2 separate regions of the Homo sapiens genome follow, and region 2 is linked to region 1. The links come from fine-mapping of genetic effects on gene expression. A gene starts in region 1. The other region holds a variant in brackets. All regions are shown on one strand. Distances are from middle to middle.

Region 1 (5,381 bases):
ATGTCCTTAATATTCTAAAACATTGAAAAACAATTATACGTGCATTTGTGGGTGAGGACATATGCAGCAAACATTTAGAAATATGAGTGAGGGGGGCTGTGCATGGTGGCTCACACCTGTAGTCCCAGTACTTTAGGAGGCTGAGGCGGGAGGATTGCTTAAAGCCAGGAGTTTGAGACCAGCCTGGGCAACACAGCAAGACCACGACTCTACAAAAAAATTTAAAAATTTGCTGGGTGCAGTGGCACCCTGTGATCCTAGCTCCTTGTGAGGCTGAGGCAGGAGGATTGCTGGAGCCCAGGAGTCTGAGGCCGCACTGAGCCGTCATCACACCACTGCACTCCAGCCTAGGTGACAGAGTAAGACCTCATTCCTAAATAAGAAAGAAAGAAATATGGGTGGGAGGGATATACAACCACCTCAAGAAAATGGCTACCTGCAGAGATGGTGGACAATGGAAGGGATAGGGTTTCAAACATATCCGTAACATTTTTTTCTTTGCAAAGAAAATTCTAAAATAAATACTGCAAAAAATTTTGTTAAATCTAGATATCATCATAGTATTTCCTATATTTTTTACACAAATAAGTATTTGTCATATTATTCTTTACTTTTCTATATATTTTAAATACTCCAGAAAATTTTTAAATGAACTTAAAATGTTTTACATTGCAAATAAATAAAATATCTGAAATAAAATCTGGTAGTCCTGGAAGCAGCTACATGAGTAAAAGGGACAAATTTGCAGTGGGCAAAACAAAAAACAAACTTGTTGCCAGGATAGTTTGCTTTATTTTCTTTATTGGATAGGTGTGGTTTGGGTCAAAGGAGAAGAGGAACTCAGCCCTTTAAAAAGAGAACATCTGATTGGGCTGTTACGGCACAGCAGGGAAGGGAAGGCAGGTTAGCAAAGGTGCTTGCTGTCTCTGGGCAGGAGCAGAAGTCCCAGGCACAGACGTCTGTGTATATGCTACACCAAAACACACCTGTTGCAACTGGAACATAATTTGATAACACTCGCAAAGCCAGAACTGGAAGGGACTGTGCCGAGCAATGCTCTTTATTTTAGAGGTGGAAAAACTGAGTTACAGAAGCCACGTGTTAGTTAAGGTTCAAAGTCTCGCTCAATTCAAAAAGGCTATTGATCTCAATTTAAAGCAGTTTCCACCCACTCTCACATTAAGATAACTTTCTGGTTTTTCTATGAATTTAAAAATGACAGGCTGGGTGTGGTGGCTCACGCCTGTAATCCCAACACTTTGGGAGGCCGAGGTGGGCAGATCACTTGAGGTCAGGAGTTCGAGACCAGCCTTGCCACCATGGCAAAACCCTGTCTCTACTGAAAACACAAAAATTAGCCGGGTGTGGTGGCACGCACCTGTAATCCCAGCTACTCAAGAGGCTGAGGCAGAAGAATCGCTTGAACCCAGGAGATGGAGATGGTGCCACTGCACTGCAGCCTAGGCCACAGATCAAGACTCTGTCCTCCTAAAAAATAAAATAAAATAAATATTCAGTAGCTTAAAAAATTATTAATATAAAAATATTTAATAAAAATATTAAATAAGAAATATAGCCAGGCACGGTGGCTCATGCCTGTAATCCCAGCACTTTGGGAGGCCGAGGTGGGTGGATCACCTGAGGTCAGGAGTTCGAGACCAGCCTGGCCAACATGGTGAAACCCCGTCTCTACTAAAAAATACAAAAATTAGCCGGGTGTGGTGGCACGCACCTGTAATCCCAGCTACTCAAGAGGCTGAGGCAGGAGAATTGCTTGAACCCAGTAAGCAGAGGCTGCAGTGAGCTGAGATCACGCCACTGCTTTCCAGCCTGGACGACAGAGCAAGACTCCATCTCAAAAAAATGAATTAATAAATTAATTAATATATATATGGAAGAAACTGGAATATAAGGAGCAAACTAATTGTCAATAGGAGAATGATTGAATGAAATATAATTACAAACATATTGCAATATATAAGACAAGTCTTAGAAGAGTGGTTTTGGTTGATATGTATTGACCAAGAAAGATGATTATAATATATAATAAATAGGGGGAAATTTACAAAATACGTCAACATCTCGCCATTTTTATAAAAAAGCAAACAAAAAGCTGTTTATGCATACATGTATTTATATAAGCTTAGAAAAACTATGGTAGGATCCACACACTATAAAAAATGGTAGTGATATTGAAAGGGAGAGACTAGGGCTATTTTTTCTTTAACTTTGAATTTATAATTCTTCAAAAAGAAGAAGGGATGGAGTGAGAGAGGAGAAAATCTGCCTTAAACACATCGCTCAGAAAGAATCACTATTTTTAAATTGTATTTCCTCCGACTTTTATAGAAAATACAAAATTGTTTACAAAACTAGTTAATACTATAAACACTGCGCTTCCTCCGCATCTGAGTTCATATTAAGCCATATTTGAGGAAGGCCTTCATATGTGGCCTTCCCTCCATGTCAACGAATCCTCATTTTTAAGGGCTACAACATATTCGATGTCTGAAGTTACTGTAGCTTACTTCACCAATCTTACTGGGGGACATTGAGATTGTCTCCGGCTTCCCCCCGCAGAAACAACTACAACAAACATCCTTGTACATACATATTTGCCCATTTGACTGCCTACTTAGGACAAATTCACAAATGTGGAATTCCTAGGCCAAAGCTAATACATCGGAGTTTTAACCCACAGCTCCAAACTGGCCTTCTGGAAAGTGGGTTTTCGTTGTTTGTTTGGGGTTTGTTTGTTTTAAATCTATCACACTCCCACCGACAGGGCAAGGGAGTGCTGCTTAACGCAGAATCAGGAGATCAAACTTTAGCTGAATTTGAGCGACCTCTTCCCAGTGACACGGCGGGGGGTTTTCCAAGCCCTTTTAAGGAAAGGAAAGGGATCTGGCGAACCCCGAGACCCACCCGCCCTGGGCTGGAGAGGCGGCGCGCTCTGGCTTTCCGCGCTGGCACAGGGGTGGGACAAGCCAAGTTTCCAGGAGACTCGCCCAGCGCGGGCCCGGCCCTCGCAGCGTGGGGGTGGCCGGGCGTCCCCGCGGCGCTCCTCGTGGGGCGGGGCGCAGGCGGGGCGGGGCCCCCTCTCCAGCCGCCCGCCCTCCGGCCGCGTCCCCGCCGGCCCTGCAGACGTGGCGGGGCGGGACCCGCTGGGCACTCCCGCGCGTACTCGGCCGCCTGAGCGGTAAGAGCCCCGGGCACTCGGTCCCCATCCCCTTCCCCGGGGGGCGGGCGAGCGCGGGGGCGGCTGCCCGGGGGTGGTGGGAACACCATACCTTGGCGCCTCGTCCGGGACCCACGAATCCTGCCCTCTGCGTTAGTGAGAAGCAGTGGTCAGGGAGGACCCGGCTCTGGGGTGAGGGTCTGGGGCGGCGCGGCCGAGGGACCTGCGTGGGTGCGGGCGTGTGAGTGTGTGTGTGTGAGTGTGTGTCGCTCCGGGTCCACGCTCATGCACACACCCACACGCCCACACTCAGGGTCTGCCCCCTCGGCCTGCGTGAACCTCCGCGGAGCCTGCCTGGATCTCCCAAAGTATCCAGTCCTGGCACCAAGCAAGTCTGGAAAAGTGCCCCCAATGGCTCGGGGCCAAGTCAGAGGTGGGCTGCAGGGTCCCCCAGCCCGGGCACGAAGGGAGCAGGTCCCTGTAAGACAGAGGCCTCGTCCCAGGGTGCGCCTGCCCTCGGCCTTGGCACAGGGAGCTCAGGCCTTGACCTCCCCGCTCCCCTCGCCTTACTCCTCCCCCAACAGCCGACCCACGCCCTGCCTGCTCTTCCAGTCCAGCCAACACTCTAAGCAGGCACCGCCTCCACTCGCAGCCCCCGGGATGGGTCCCACTCCCTACCGCAGATCCCCAGGCCCCCTCCACCCAGTCGGCTAGCCCTCGCCTCTGCCATCCGGTGAGTATTTCCAGGCACCTCAGACCAGGCGCCTGAACGTCACTGCCTTTTCTTAAGTAGGAAGACATCTCTCTATGGGCTGTGAGAGCATTACCTATGCCCTACTGATCCCATCATTTCCCATCCTAAACATCTTGAAGGACACAGGCAGGTGGCTTCTTAAATCAGTGTGCTCTGAACTCCCTGTGACCTCAGCCAACCTGTGACAACTGAGAATGAGACAGGCTCTATCCTCAGAGCCTCTTTTTGCCCTCTCTGCAGCCTAGTGGCTCCTTCCCTACCCCACCCATAGGCCTGCGTCCCCGCCCTCCTTTCTTCCATCAAGCCTGAGCTTGGGAAAGAATCTGATAAACTTCTTACATTGTAACCTTTAAGTGAAGGAATGAGACGTTAGGGATGGATTTGAGGCACAAGTGAGACAGTGCAGAAGGAATTTGAGGGTTGGAGGGGGCTTTCTTGAATCTGAGCGATTCAGACCATAAAAGTAAACTTGTCTTTGTTTATTTGACCAGGCTTACATCAAACATGGTTTCTCTTTTATTAATATCAAACACAATGTATTTCAATTCAGTAAATATCTGAGGGACAGAAACCAACCTAGGTGCTGTTGGTCACAGTCTTGGAGGACAGAATGGCAGAAGTAAATACTCCATAAATACATGGAATAGAAATCTGTGCAAAGTGCCAAAAACATAGAAGAGGTAGCAGTTATTTCATTGGAAGCAGTGGGGCAGATTAAGGAAAAATTCAGAATGAAAGGTAACATTAGACACTGGGTGTCTAGAGGAATAGGAGTTTGCCAGGCAGCTGGAGGAAGGGCAGCACCGGGGCAGAGGAACCAGCGTAAGCAAAGGCAGGGAGATGTGAAGAGTTATGGGGAATGGAGAAAAGACTGGTGAGGCAGGAGTGGAGGATACTGAGAGTTGCAAGAGGTGGAGAGAGATTGGAGCTGGATTATGATGGGAAGTGTGAAGATATTTACACCTAATGGTTTTTGAACAGGAGAGCAAATAGGTCCAAAAATGCCTGGCAGCCTCACAGAGAATAGGCTGGAGCCTGGGTACGTAGACTTGTCAAGCTTTATACAAACTCATACAAACTGCTACAACCTGATTAAGAGCCTCTCATCCAGAGTTTTTATTCCTGGTCCTTCGCTGACTGGCACTGTTTTTGTTTTTTTTTTTTAACTGGGGGAGATGACCTCACACAGGATATCATGCTAACCAAATTTTTATGCTGCCAAGTCAGGCCATTTTTTTTAAAAAAATCCATCCACTGTCACTATTTCATAAAATGAAAGACATTTTAATACCAAGAAAAAGCACAAAGGCTAAACTTGAAAGATGAAGGCAGTCCTTTACATTTAATAAATTTAGATTTATGAAAAACTTGCAATCTTGTCCTCATTTTTCTCTATCATCACAGACTTGCCCCAGTCCTGCAGGTGGAGTTTGGAAAAAAAAGCATCCA
Region 2 (5,381 bases), 39 kb after region 1:
TCTTATTCAGGAAATGGGCAATTGGTTATTTTAACAGTGCCTTCTAAGACTAGGTGGTTCTAGTTAGCTCTCAAATTCTGTTGGGACTTGGGACGTTTTTCCTCATATTACTGCCTTGTGTTTTAGCAACCTGAGGTCACCCAGGTCCCGAGAGAAATCTTTCATTTTCTCCGTGAGTGCTCGGGGGATGGGGAGTTCTGTGATGATGGCAGCCTGTGCTGTTTCTCCTTCAAGAAGTCAGACAGCCACTTTGGACCATCCGTAGGCTATTCATTCCTTCAACAGTTTGACAACTCAGAAAAGCTATAGCTCATCGTGAAGGCCTCAAAGGGAGGAAAATCTCTCCAGAATAAAATGTAGACAAGACTATGTCCGTATCAGGTCAAAGGTTGGGGTTTTTCCCTGTGGGTAGGAAGGTCAGCTCTGTATTTACCAAATAGTTATTGAATAACCGCTCTGCCTGGCTCAGGGAACAAGGGTATTATCCCTGCTTAGATGGAGTAAAACCTGTGCTCTTCGCCTGCCTGACTGCTGTTAAGGTTGATTTATATCATTATTAAGACAACTGTCGGGGCTGTTGGGTGGCCTTCCTGGTTTCTCCACTGACTTGCCTTTTGATTTTTGGATGTCAGCTCCAGGACCTTCACTCTCCATGCCTAAAGGAAGGCCTAATGCTTTAAAGAAACATTCTGAGGCTCAGGTGATTTCAATCCAACCAATATTAATTGATCATCTGCAATGTGCTAAGCCTGCAAGGAATCAAAAAAATGAATGAAGAATATCTTCCATAAGGAGCTTACAAAAGAGTAAAGAGGATGAGACAGGTACACTATACAAAGACTGTGTTGAGCTTAGAATTCCAGGTTGATAGCTAGGTGGTGTGAGAAGCAAAAGCAAACAGTGAAGCATCCGGGAGCACTTTACCTACGTGTATCTCATTTGCACGTCACAATAACTCAATGAGGAAACTGAGTCACAGAGAGGCTAGGTAACTTCTCCAAGGTCATTCAACCAGGCAGGGGTGAAACTGAGCTCATATTGGAACCCACATCTCAGGGAGCAGGGATTCCTCTTTCTTTCAATCAGGATGTACTTCTACAGGCCAGGTGCGATGGCTCACACCTGTAATCCCAGCACTTTGGGAGGCAGAGGTGAGCCAATCACCTGAGGTCAGGAGTTCAAGACAAGCCTGGCCAACACTTAGTGAAACCTAGTCTCCACTAAAGGCACAAAAATTAGCCGGGCGTGGTGGTGTGCATCTGTAATCCCAGCTGCTAGGGAGGCTGAGGCAGGAGAATCACTTGAACTCGGGAGGCGGAGGTTGCAGTGAGCCAAGATTGCACCACTGCACTCCAGCCTGGGTGACAGAGCAAGACTCCATCTTTTAAAAAAAAAAAAAAAGAAAGATGTACTTCTGCAACTTGAAACAGCTTTGTAAGATTTGGTGGAGGATTTGCAGACCGTGGATTTCTAATGTATCCATGAACCATATTTTTATTTCCAACAGGTCATGGATTGACGGCAGTCAAGGAAAAAGCAGGAGCCACTCTACGGATTCATGGTGTAAATTCTGGATCTTCTGAAGGAGCCCAACCAAATACTGAAAACGGAGTCCCTGAAAGTGAGTGATGTGTCTCCTCTGGGTGTTCTTGGACTTTATTACACCATGTGCATAATCAGAGGTTTTCCAAGTTCAGATCAGCGACGTGAACTCTTAAAGGATTTCTTTTTTCTCTTTAGTAACAGATGCAGCCACAGATCAGGGCCCTGCAGAAAGCCCACCCACTTCCCCTTCATCAGCCTCTCGGGGTATGCTGTCTGCCATCACCAATGTGGTTCAAAACACAGTGAGTCGCTGGCTGCTTCCTCTCTTTCCCCTGTATTTCCCAGGGCCTTCTTTTGATATTTCCATTTACCAGTGACCTAGATACATCAGAGAAACGATGGCCTTGCTCAGAACTTTGGATTATGGTTTTTTTTTTAATGTTTTCTGCTACAAAGTAGACGTAACCTTGGATTCAAAATAATAAGGGCAAAATGAAATATATTTTATGTTTAAAAGAAGGGAGCTGTTTGGAAGGAACATTTTTCAGTCTGATTTAACAGTGTCCTTTCCAGCTGCGGCAAGGACAGCCTCTGGTTGAGGGGAGAGAGAACTCTTTATCAGAGCTGGGACAGCTGTTTTTCCTAAATGCTCTGCTTATCTTATCCCTGAGTTTGAAAAAGCATTAAACCGTTTAAATAAAAAGTACCCGTTACAAGACAGGAAAAACAGCCCAAATATGTTTCTGAAGTGTTTCCAGAGACCAGCGTTCTTCCCCCATCCCTACCTCTTCATTCCCACCCTTCCTCCTCCTTACACCACCCTAAGTGTATCCCCCTAGATCCCTGCCTACCTCTTAGAAGAAGCTCCATATTAGCAGCAAAACATTGGTGAATAATGAAAAAAGGGGAGGCACCTCAACTGAGATAAGGCAGGTAGCTGGTCATCAGGGTCAGGGAGCAAAGATTTATTTTGTTTTTTCTTTTGTTTTTTTGAGATGGAGTCTCACTCTTGTCACCTAGGCTGGCGTGCAGTGGTGCAATCTCGGCTCACTGCAACCTCCGCATCCCTGATTCAAGTGATTCTCCCACCTCAGCCTCCCAAGTAGCTGGGATTACAGGTGCCCACCACCACACCCAGCTAATTTTTGTGTTTTTAGTAGAGATGGGGTTTCACCACGTTGGCCAGGCTTGTCTTGAACTCTTGACCTCAGGTGATCCTCCTGCCTCGGCCTCCCAAAGTGCTGAGATTACAGGTGTGAAGGTGTATTTCTTACTATGTAAACTAACTAGTTTTTCTAAAAATATGGCTCGTGTCTCATTTAGTCATTCATTCATTCATTCATTCATTAAAAGAAAAACAACAACACAAACATGATTAGCCCTCACTATGTTCCAGTATCTATGCTAGATCTTGGATATATGCTGGCAAACAAGAGGGCACAATATCCCAGAGGACTGAGGC[G/A]ACTGAACAAATAAACACAATGTAATTCGGGAAGAGGTGAGGGCTGCGGTCAAACATGAGAGGATCTCACCCAGACCTTGGGGTCAGGACATGCCAGAAATATAGAAAATGACTGGTCTTCTCCTTGCTATTTGAGGACCTCTAGACTGGGGTGGGGGAAGTAAGGAGGAGCAGCAAATCTGTCTTAGGAGTCAAGTAGCAATACAAGTCAACCACCCCCGTGGGGGGTTTGTAGGATGGGAGATGGATGGAGCTCTGTCAGTACCTCTGGTATAAGAAATGAATTCACGGCCTATCTGAGCTACCAAGAGGGCACTATGAGTTTGTCTTCAGCAGCCTCACATTCCTTTCTGTGTTCTCTCCAACCTTCTTGACCCCTTTTTCCCAAGTTCCAGACACTACCCCTCCAAGTCTATCCTTAACACAAATCCCTGTGTCCTTTCTTCCACCATTTTATTCTCAATAAAATAATTTTTCATAGGATGTTAGCAGGCACTAAGTCAAATTACACAGAAGTGTGAATTGCTGCTGTCCCATCATCCCCCCGAAGTGTGCGCACTGAAAACTGATTTACAGCATGATTACTGGTTGGCTCCCAAATCTAAAAACAAAGTCTAAATACCCAAGATGAAAATAAAGTATATTAATTCTATGAAATTAAATACTTCTATTTAAATGATAATTATGAAGATTGGAAAATGCATATCAGTAATAATATCATAATAAAATACAATTTATATCATTTTTATATATGGTGGGGAAAAACACAGATGTATGCATATTATAATTGCAGTTATACAGTTGGAGTGTAAGTATGAAAGAGTTGCAAAGACATGTATGCAGTTCTGTTCACTTGAATAGTTTATGTGTGAGTAAGTCTGGGTTATTTTAATTTTTTAAAAAAAGCAACAATGACTGACAAAGGGATTTGCAGGAGGATAGCTATATAATACACCAGTTTCTAAAGCCAGAAGTACAAGGAAATCAACCTGTCTCATTTCATGGATATACTAATTATAGGCAGTTATTGCTAGTTTCTGAGAGTATGCAAGAACCATCTGAAACAGCCTGAGGGTCTTACCCTCCAGGGCCCTAGATTAAAGAATTCCCTAAATTAGCAGGACTGTTTGACATTTTAATAGACTGCTCCAAGCAACTCTGTTACTTGGGTTAAAAAAATTTTTAAACAGAAACAGCAATTTATTTTATGTTAATTTTATGTCTTAGCAATTTATTTTATGTTAATTTTATGTCTTAGATACACATCCATTCATACACAGAGAGCCAGTAAAATTAATCCCTTTGTGGGATTAATTTTATTTTATGTGCTTTGGTTTTTTTCTAAGCATCAGTCTTTAATAACATTGTATGTCCTACAAATTATATAACATATGCTTTTCCAAGGAAACGAGAATAGGATTAAATGGATGATAAATCTCCTGATGAGAAAAAATTGTGACTTTATATTGATTTTAATATTTGAAGATAGTGCCAGTTACCTAGGAGTTGCTGACTGCTGCGAAACAGCAAAACCTAAACATCTAATCTCATGCAGTTATCTCATCTGCAGGGTAAAAGTGTCTTAACTGGAGGCCTTGATGCGTTGGAATTCATCGGCAAGAAAACCATGAATGTCCTTGCAGAAAGTGACCCGGGCTTTAAGCGGACCAAGACGCTCATGGAGAGAACTGTTTCCTTGTCTCAGGTTGGATTATATACGTTTGCAATTTTTTCTTTCAGTCAATAAAGTAAATAAATTTTTTATTTATCTTTTTGAATAGCTCATTTAAAGCATGTGATTCAAATCAAATGACACCAAAGAGCAGAGAGAGAAAACTGAGCTTCTAATACCCCCATTTCCCCAGTCACTTAATTCCTCAGAGGAGACAACCAGTTAACAGTTCCTTAAGGATTCTATCAGAGACCGCAGAGAGATATGGATATAGATCTATAGATGCAGCTATACATAAATATACAGATGTAAAAGTACATATGTATGCATGTGGATAGACATGCACATAAATACACACATATTTTTTCAACCCAGTGGTAACATACTAAACACACTCTTGTTCCTTGCTTAATTCACTTAATATTATTTCTTGAAGATGATCCATTTATGTCATGGTATGCATCCCATCTCTACCACTTAGTAGCTGAGTGACCTTGGGCAAGTTACTTAGCCCCTCTGTGCCTCAGCTTACTCATCTGTACACTGGGGATAATTTAAATACCTACCAATAACTTTGTTGTGAGGATACGCTGAGTTAGAATAGAACCCAGCTCTTAGTAAGCATTCAGAAATGTTAGTTGTTGTCATTGCCGTTATTATGTGTCGGTATAATAGGTGGAAATGGTATCTCATTGGAATTTT

Alleles and levels. Positions count from the first base shown, and alleles are read on the strand shown. Sizes are in standard deviations (SD) of each study's normalised expression.
As copies of A replace G in region 2, the expression in nucleus accumbens of the gene that starts at base 3,171 in region 1 goes up (small effect, 0.23 SD a copy in GTEx).

The links.
Region 2: its variant is fine-mapped to the expression of FAM114A1 in nucleus accumbens (GTEx, PIP 0.93).

What each region holds. Positions count from the first base shown.
Region 1 is chr4:38,864,636-38,870,016 of GRCh38, forward strand. It overlaps FAM114A1 (family with sequence similarity 114 member A1), which reads left to right and starts at 3,171. Exons shown (of 15, transcript NM_138389.4): 1 at 3,171-3,199; 2 at 3,763-3,911. It overlaps MIR574 (microRNA 574), which reads left to right and starts at 3,397; the gene lies at 3,397-3,492. It also overlaps a transcript of TLR6 not described here. RefSeq lists silencers at 2,935-3,414, 3,465-3,514 and an enhancer at 3,722-4,305.
Region 2 is chr4:38,904,015-38,909,395 of GRCh38, forward strand. It overlaps FAM114A1 (family with sequence similarity 114 member A1), which reads left to right. Exons shown (of 15, transcript NM_138389.4): 5 at 1,508-1,621; 6 at 1,741-1,847; 7 at 4,578-4,712. Among named protein-coding and RNA genes, the nearest start is that of MIR574, 39 kb to the left of the region's middle. RefSeq lists an enhancer at 11-180. The variant G/A (reference allele first, on the strand shown) is at 3,008.